Linked DNA regions of Homo sapiens. The protein of the gene in region 1 purifies or fractionates together with the protein of each later gene. This does not show direct contact. Each region holds a gene or a part of one and is shown on either strand. Other genes may lie near its edges. The genes, in order: RAET1L and PCDHA7.

Evidence for each region.
Region 2: the proteins of RAET1L (region 1) and PCDHA7 purify together in Homo sapiens (affinity purification with mass spectrometry; one large-scale study listed by BioGRID and IntAct). This does not show direct contact.

What each region holds. Positions count from the first base shown.
Region 1 is NC_000006.12:150,023,348-150,027,263, forward strand, and holds the start of RAET1L (UL16-binding protein 6 precursor), read right to left. Parts: upstream 2,186-3,916; 5' UTR 2,125-2,185; coding exon 2,040-2,124; intron 1-2,039. UniProt on the Homo sapiens protein: Binds and activates the KLRK1/NKG2D receptor, mediating natural killer cell cytotoxicity.
Region 2 is NC_000005.10:140,832,545-140,836,460, forward strand, and holds the start of PCDHA7 (protocadherin alpha-7 isoform 1 precursor), read left to right. Parts: upstream 1-1,724; 5' UTR 1,725-1,839; coding exon 1,840-3,916. UniProt on the Homo sapiens protein: Calcium-dependent cell-adhesion protein involved in cells self-recognition and non-self discrimination. Thereby, it is involved in the establishment and maintenance of specific neuronal connections in the brain.

The DNA.
Region 1 (3,916 bases):
GAACGAGGCTGCTTTGCCTAATTTGCAGAATGAAGCCACTTCTCAGACCCTGAACCCATGACTATAAGAAGACACCAGTTTCTAGTGAGGAAGGACCCTTTAACCCTGCAGCCAGGACAGTGAGTCCTTGTGGCCTTCTCCAGAGATATTTATGGCCAATAGAGTTTGCTGTGAAGGGCAATTTTGTAAACATGTAAAGGTGTTCAGGGAATATATTCTCCATTGTAACTACTCAACTCTGCTGTTGAAGCTCAAAAGCAGCCATAGACAATCCATGAATGATGAGCGAGGCTGGACCTACCTTAAGTGCCCAATGACCCAAGACCCCCTAAGATCCTAGAGGTACATGTGGTCACAATGTCTAATTGGAGAATCACAACAGAGATTCCATGTGAATATTCAGAGACAAGGCAATGCCACTCACAGCAAGGAAATCGCAACATTAAGCAGTGGCTCCTGTAGAGTACTGCACCTTGGCAGAGATGGGGCCTTTTGCCATGCATATAAAGAAGGCCCCATGACAAGGCACCAGAATGGAATGAAGCTTAGGGATGCCTATTCCTGAAGGCCTCAGAGCTGCCCATTACTGGTGGGCTCCTCGCCCTCTAGGTCATTAGGAAGATAGGCCCAGCAGTGAGAAGATGCAGGTGGTTCTTCTGGGATGGGCAGGAGCAGGGCCACCGGGAACCAAGAAGTTGCACAAGCAGTTGGACCTGATCCCCAGGACACCACGTGGCTGCACCCACTCACCCTCAGCTCACACCTGAGGCTTCAGGGAGGGTACCTGATGGTCCCCATGGATGCCACTCAGCACAAAGGAGGGGAGAATAAGCCCCCAACTATGGGACCCCCACTCCCATCACATCCACACCACCCAGAAGCCACAGGCAAGGTAGGGCCACCTTCTACTTTCCAACTGACATCAGAGACATCACTTGGAGATGACACCCTAGGGGATGGGGCACTGGGACACTGTAATCCCCTGATCTGGGATCAGCAACCTAGGACAGGGTCCAAATCTGGTCCCCCCTCTTTGAAGGTTGCCATTGCCTGCTGTTGCTCTACAAAGGGACAGGACTGGACACAGAGACGGAGAACCCATGGCCTGCAAAGATCACAGGGCATCCTTCCTCCCTTTCTAGAAAGGGTTTGCTGACCCCTGTCTACACAGTGACTATTCTCTATGACGCTGACACCCCCGTAGGAAGAACAGGCGGTCTGGGCCCCAAGGGCAGAAGTGGGTGCCTCTACTCACCAGAGTTCCCAGGGTCATCCTGGAGGAAATGGTGCTTCCCATCCCCCCTGCACAGGTTCTGAGGGGAGCTTGGGGTGTGTTTGTTGGGGTGTGTCCTCAGGCAAGAGGCAGAAGGTGCGACGTGGTGTAGGAGGTGGTGAGGTACCCTTCATGGATGGGGAGACCTCAGGGGTGACCAGCTGGGCTGAGGTGGGCAGTAAGAGGATGTGACCTGGGTGGTGGCAGTGGATGGTGAGGGGAGGGGTGGCGGGTATCTGCTGAGCCCCTGGGTGCAGGTGAGTGTCTACAGGAAAAGTGCGGGGAAAACAAAGGCAGGGAGTCCTGGGGGTGCTGGAGGGTTTGTGTGGTAGAGAGCAGGTGAGAGCAGAGCAGGCTTGTGGCTGGTGGGGGCGTCTGTGATTGTATCCCTGTGGTACCCCCCTTCACCCAGTCCTGACCCCAGCTCTGTTCCCGGGGGGGCTCTGGTTTCTCCTTCCGAAAGGCGGGTGGGACTGCCGGGCTGCACTAGGAATCCGGGCCCCACCTAGCCCTCGCAGCCCTCTGGCCCCTCCACCCTCCTGCCAGCCTCGTTTTCACCCTGCTCTTTTTCGCCCCTACTGGGGCAAGAACAGCCTTGGGGAGTGGACCCGGCGGGAAGGAGCCCAGGAGGGGAACTGAGCTGGGGGCGCAGTTCGGGGAGATCTCCCTTGTCCTTCCAGAAGCCTTCCCTCCTCTGAAACCCGCTGCAGTCCACAGTCCCTCAGGTTTGGCCCCCGCCCCGCTTAGGCTCCATCCACCAGCTCACCGTCTCGCCTAGCCCGGGACCAGCCGAACAGCAGGAACAGAAGCGGGAGGCACAGAAGCAAAGCTGGGATGGCGGCTGCTGCCATTGGGGACCAGGAGGGCTGGGGACAAGAGATTTAATCAAGGTGGATCCTGGAAGATGAAATCACCTCTGTGCTGAAAGGCTGGCTTATATACTGTTAGTTACTGGGGAATGTACCGGGGAATGAGTCACCTCGATTCTGAAAAGCCAGATTTTAATGCTACTGGGCGTAGTCACTGGGCGCGTTCCACCTCTTCGTTTCATTGTCTGGACGAAATCCAGTTTCCATGCTAGTGTCCCTTCCCTTCTTCACCCGCTCCGGCAGCTTGGTGGCCTCGTGCCCGGGCCCCACTCCTGCCAGGACACGATTCCTTCCACGACAGACTCATTTAATCATTATAGCATTTTTTATTAATGGTGAAGAAACGTGCAGAGGAATATTCAGCGGCCTCGGCGTCTCCTTGTCCCCGCCTGGGTCCGCGGCACTCTCCCTCCTTCCGCTTGCGCCGCGGGGTCCCTGGCTCACCCCGCCCTGGGCACAGCCATGGGCCTGTTCGCGTCCCCTCCACTACTTCCCCAGTCCCCGGTGGGCGTGGTTACAGTCCGGGCTGGGTTTTATTTTTTATTTCTTTATCTATTTATGTATTTGGAGATGGGGTTTCTCTCTTATTGCACAGGCTGGAGTGCAACGGCCCGATGTCGGCTCGCCGCAGCCTTGTCTCCTGGGTTCAAGCGATTCTCTTGCCTCAGCTTCTGGAGTAGCTGGGATTACGGGTGCCCACCACCAAGCCCGGCGAATTGTTTGTAGTTTTGGTAGAGATGGGGTTTCACCTTGTTGGCCAGGCTGGTCTCAAACTCCTTTCCTCAGGTGATCCACCCACCTCGGCCTCCCAAAGTGCTGGGATTACAGGCATGAGTCAGCGTGCCCGGCCTGGGCTAGGTTTTATTACAGAAACAGCAGGTAGGGTTTCAGAGGTTCAAAACAACATATTGTATAGTAAACAATTGGTGAAGATGGTAAATTCTATGTTCTATGTTTTTACCAAAATTAAGCAGCTTTAAAAATTATCTTAACAATTTATGTCTTGCTTCTGCTTCACCCAGTGCAGACTGGCCAAAAGGCTGCTCATTAAAATCGAGGACAGCATTGAGGACCTCATCCCTAGAATCTCAACCTGTGACACGCTTGCTGATTTAGAAAGCTCCTCAGAGAGATTACCTCTGAGCTCCCAGTTCAGCAGCCGCCCTGGCCCAGGTCCACCGATGGCACAGGGGGCTCAGCAGAGCAGGTTCAACTGAAAGTTCCTAGTGGTTCCCAACTGTCAGCGCATTCTGCTGGCCTCTTCCCCCTGGGCAAAGAGCCAGCCATCCTTCAAAGCCGGGCACAAATACCCCCTCCCATGTGTGTCCTGCATGTTCCCACAATACAGAACACCCTCCTGCTCCCTGAGACCTGGGTTCACAGTGGGTGCATCCAGATCTCCCTGTGTGACAATTGCTCACACATTTCTTTGCCTCTCTGCTAGAAGCATGAGGTCTTTGAGAATATACTACATCCCTTCCTAAAAAGACCTAGTGAACAACTTGCTCAATCATGTAATCAATTGTGTTTCCACGAAGAGCAGGAGCCGAGGGAGGAGTCTACACACGTGTGGGGTTCACTTTCCAGCACACCAATCCGTGGCCAACCACACCTGAATCCATGGCTGCACCCACACCTCTGCTCAGCCCCTAGATGGTCACTGGACTCATTATCAAAGGGGCAACCCCAAGTGCCCCCTTGTCTTAGTCACCATGAAGGCATCTAGACCTGTGGGCAGAAGGCAGAGGGAGGTGGGGGGCCCAGCGATCCCTGG
Region 2 (3,916 bases), on another chromosome or scaffold:
GATATCTAACAGCCTCAAAACAGCATACTTTCTTAGGAAGTAGAGAACTATAGCGTTGCTAGTGAGTAAATGTTTTTTAAAAAGTTCCTAGGAGGGTCTTTAAGAGTATCACACTGTGCCTGCTGAGAATCATCGAATTAACAAGACCTGGCTTCAAATTTAATAGATAAATAAAGGTAAGTATCCTACATAAATACGATGATAGTAAAAGCAAGAATATTGTAAGAGGTGCTAGAAAGGTACATCATAGTGTTATTGGAATTGGAAAAAAATCTTTGCCTTTTTCCCTTGTTGAAGGAGACCGTGAAGAGTCATGATGTTTTACTGGTTATAAAATGGAAAGAGTTTTCCCTGGGAGAATATGGAGACTAACAGGTATTCATGAGAAGAGAGTAACTTAAGTGAGTATACAGAAAATTCCAAATGTACCTAGAAATGAGGAATAGTCCACTTTGGGTAAAGCACATGGTTCCCATAAGAGAGAGTGTGATATAAAGCAAGAAAAGTAATATGAGAAAAACCTTTTGTATAACTTTGAGTACTAGACGAGTAATTTTGACACTCTTCAAAGTCATTTGAAAGCTGTCAAAAAGTGTGAAGCAATACGAATAAAAAGTATTAACGGAAGATGACTGCAAGGATTAAATGAAGGAGAATGAAATAGGAATGGACAGGTTACACAATAAGAAGCTACTGCAATACACCAGGAGAGCAGCAATTATAAAAACTTATTTAGGAAAGCATCTGAATACAGACATAATTATTTTACATGCCATTGGGAACATTGGAGTGAAACATTCCAGAAAACGAACACAGTAAGGTAGATCCAAAAAGGATGAAATACCTCAAGACTTGATCAAAGGGCTGCTGTATGTGAGATGGCTGAGCACTGAAATTTATCTAATAAAATAAACTTACATTTTAAAAGAAATAATACAAATCATATTTGAGATTGTAAAAATAGGCATATATTCATAACACACAAGTGTTCGAAAGGATAGAATGAGGAAACAAATATAAAATGATGAACTCCTGAAACAGTATATATAGATTCTGCTAAAGCAAAAAATTCAGAATACTTCCTCCTCAAAAAGTTCACATGATACAAATTCTTCCCCTTCAAAGATTCCCCAAACCTTCTCTTATTTTGTTTTCCCAAGAGAAGTGTCTGGATAGTTGCTAATGTTTCTTGCCTCCTAAAAAGAAAACACACACACACACACCGCTTTCTAAGTTTCTCTTTCATCAATCAGTAGATTCTTGAGATCCTGGGTCCCTAAAAGAGTACAGGATTTTTCTTAACAAGCGATACTGAATCAAGAATATGAAGTTTCCTGGGATCTAGATCAAAGGAATTTAAACTTGCAGTTGTTTAAATTCATGTTGTCACTTAGGTTTCTATCTTTATTTAAAACTGTGTGAAAAAAAAGTTTTTCTAAGGCATGAGGAAGCTACAGTTCTGGTAACACTGAGTATTCAAAAGCCATCAGTCGCCTAAGAATGCTTCTAACAATCATGAGAAATGCTATTTTAACCTTTAACAACAATGAAGAAAAAAATTCAGAGTTTGAAATAAAACTTTTCATCTGATTAATAGTTTGTAATGGTTTGTAATTCTTACTTACATGATGGCCACATGATGTCGCTCTTTACCGCAAATTCTTTCGTAATCAGCAAAAGGAAGTCATTCCTTTTCGCACTGGAAAGACGCTCCACTCTCTTTCACTCTTTGGATGCACAACAATGGCCACACATCGAGATTGAAATGAAGGGATAAAAACATTCCTATAAATTCGAAGGCAAGTTTTGCTGACTAGAAAAACAAGCCAATAATTTGAAATGGTGTGCCCGAATGGATACGACCCAGGGGGCCGACATCTACTGCTGTTTATTATAATTCTAGCAGCTTGGGAGGCAGGGAGAGGCCAGCTCCACTACTCGGTCCCCGAGGAGGCTAAACATGGCAACTTCGTGGGCCGCATCGCGCAGGACCTGGGGCTGGAGCTGGCGGAGCTGGTGCCGCGCCTGTTCCGGGCGGTGTGCAAATTCCGTGGGGATCTTCTGGAGGTAAATCTGCAGAATGGCATTTTGTTTGTGAATTCTCGGATCGACCGCGAGGAGCTGTGCGGGCGGAGCGCGGAGTGCAGCATCCACCTGGAGGTGATCGTGGAAAGGCCGCTGCAGGTTTTCCATGTGGACGTGGAGGTGAAGGACATTAACGACAACCCTCCGGTGTTCCCAGCGACACAAAGGAATCTGTTCATCGCGGAATCCAGGCCGCTTGACTCTCGGTTTCCACTAGAGGGCGCGTCCGATGCAGATATCGGGGAGAACGCCCTGCTCACTTACAGACTGAGCCCCAATGAGTATTTCTTCCTGGACGTGCCAACCAGCAACCAGCAGGTAAAACCTCTTGGACTTGTATTACGGAAACTTTTAGACAGAGAAGAAACTCCGGAGCTTCATTTATTGCTCACGGCCACCGATGGAGGCAAACCCGAGCTGACTGGCACCGTTCAATTACTCATCACGGTACTGGACAACAATGACAATGCCCCAGTGTTCGACAGAACCCTGTATACGGTGAAATTACCAGAAAACGTTTCTATCGGAACGCTGGTGATTCACCCCAATGCCTCAGATTTAGACGAAGGCTTGAATGGGGATATTATTTACTCCTTCTCCAGTGATGTTTCTCCAGATATAAAATCCAAGTTCCACATGGACCCCTTAAGTGGGGCAATCACAGTGATAGGACATATGGATTTTGAAGAAAGTAGAGCACACAAGATCCCAGTCGAGGCTGTCGATAAAGGCTTCCCACCCCTGGCTGGTCATTGTACAGTTCTTGTGGAAGTTGTGGATGTAAATGACAATGCTCCACAGTTGACTCTCACTTCCCTGTCTCTCCCTATTCCAGAGGACGCCCAACCAGGTACCGTCATCACATTGATTAGCGTGTTTGACCGAGATTTTGGAGTCAACGGACAGGTTACCTGCTCCCTGACGCCCCGCGTTCCCTTCAAGTTGGTGTCCACCTTCAAGAATTACTATTCATTGGTGCTGGACAGCGCTCTGGACCGCGAGAGTGTGTCCGCCTATGAGCTGGTGGTTACCGCGCGGGACGGGGGCTCGCCTTCTCTGTGGGCCACTGCTAGCGTGTCCGTGGAGGTGGCCGACGTGAACGACAACGCCCCGGCGTTCGCGCAGCCCGAGTATACGGTGTTCGTGAAGGAGAACAACCCGCCGGGCTGCCACATCTTCACTGTGTCGGCGGGGGACGCGGACGCGCAGAAGAACGCGCTGGTGTCCTACTCGCTGGTGGAGCTGCGGGTGGGCGAGCGCGCGCTGTCGAGCTACGTGTCAGTGCACGCGGAGAGCGGCAAGGTGTACGCGCTGCAGCCGTTGGACCACGAGGAGCTGGAGCTGTTGCAGTTCCAGGTGAGCGCGCGCGATGCGGGCGTGCCGCCTCTGGGCAGCAACGTGACGCTGCAGGTGTTCGTGCTGGACGAGAACGACAACGCGCCGGCACTGCTGGCGCCTCGGGTGGGTGGCACTGGTGGCGCAGTGAGAGAGCTTGTGCCGCGGTCTGTGGGCGCGGGCCATGTGGTGGCGAAGGTACGTGCAGTTGACGCTGACTCAGGCTACAACGCGTGGCTTTCGTATGAGTTGCAACCGGTGGCGGCCGGTGCGAGCATCCCGTTCCGCGTGGGGCTGTACACTGGTGAGATCAGCACGACACGAGCCCTAGATGAGACGGACGCACCGCGCCACCGCCTTCTGGTGCTTGTGAAGGACCACGGGGAGCCCTCGCTGACAGCCACAGCCACCGTGCTGGTGTCGCTGGTGGAAAGCGGCCAGGCACCAAAGGCGTCGTCGCGGGCATCGTTGGGCATTGCAGGCCCAGAGACCGAGC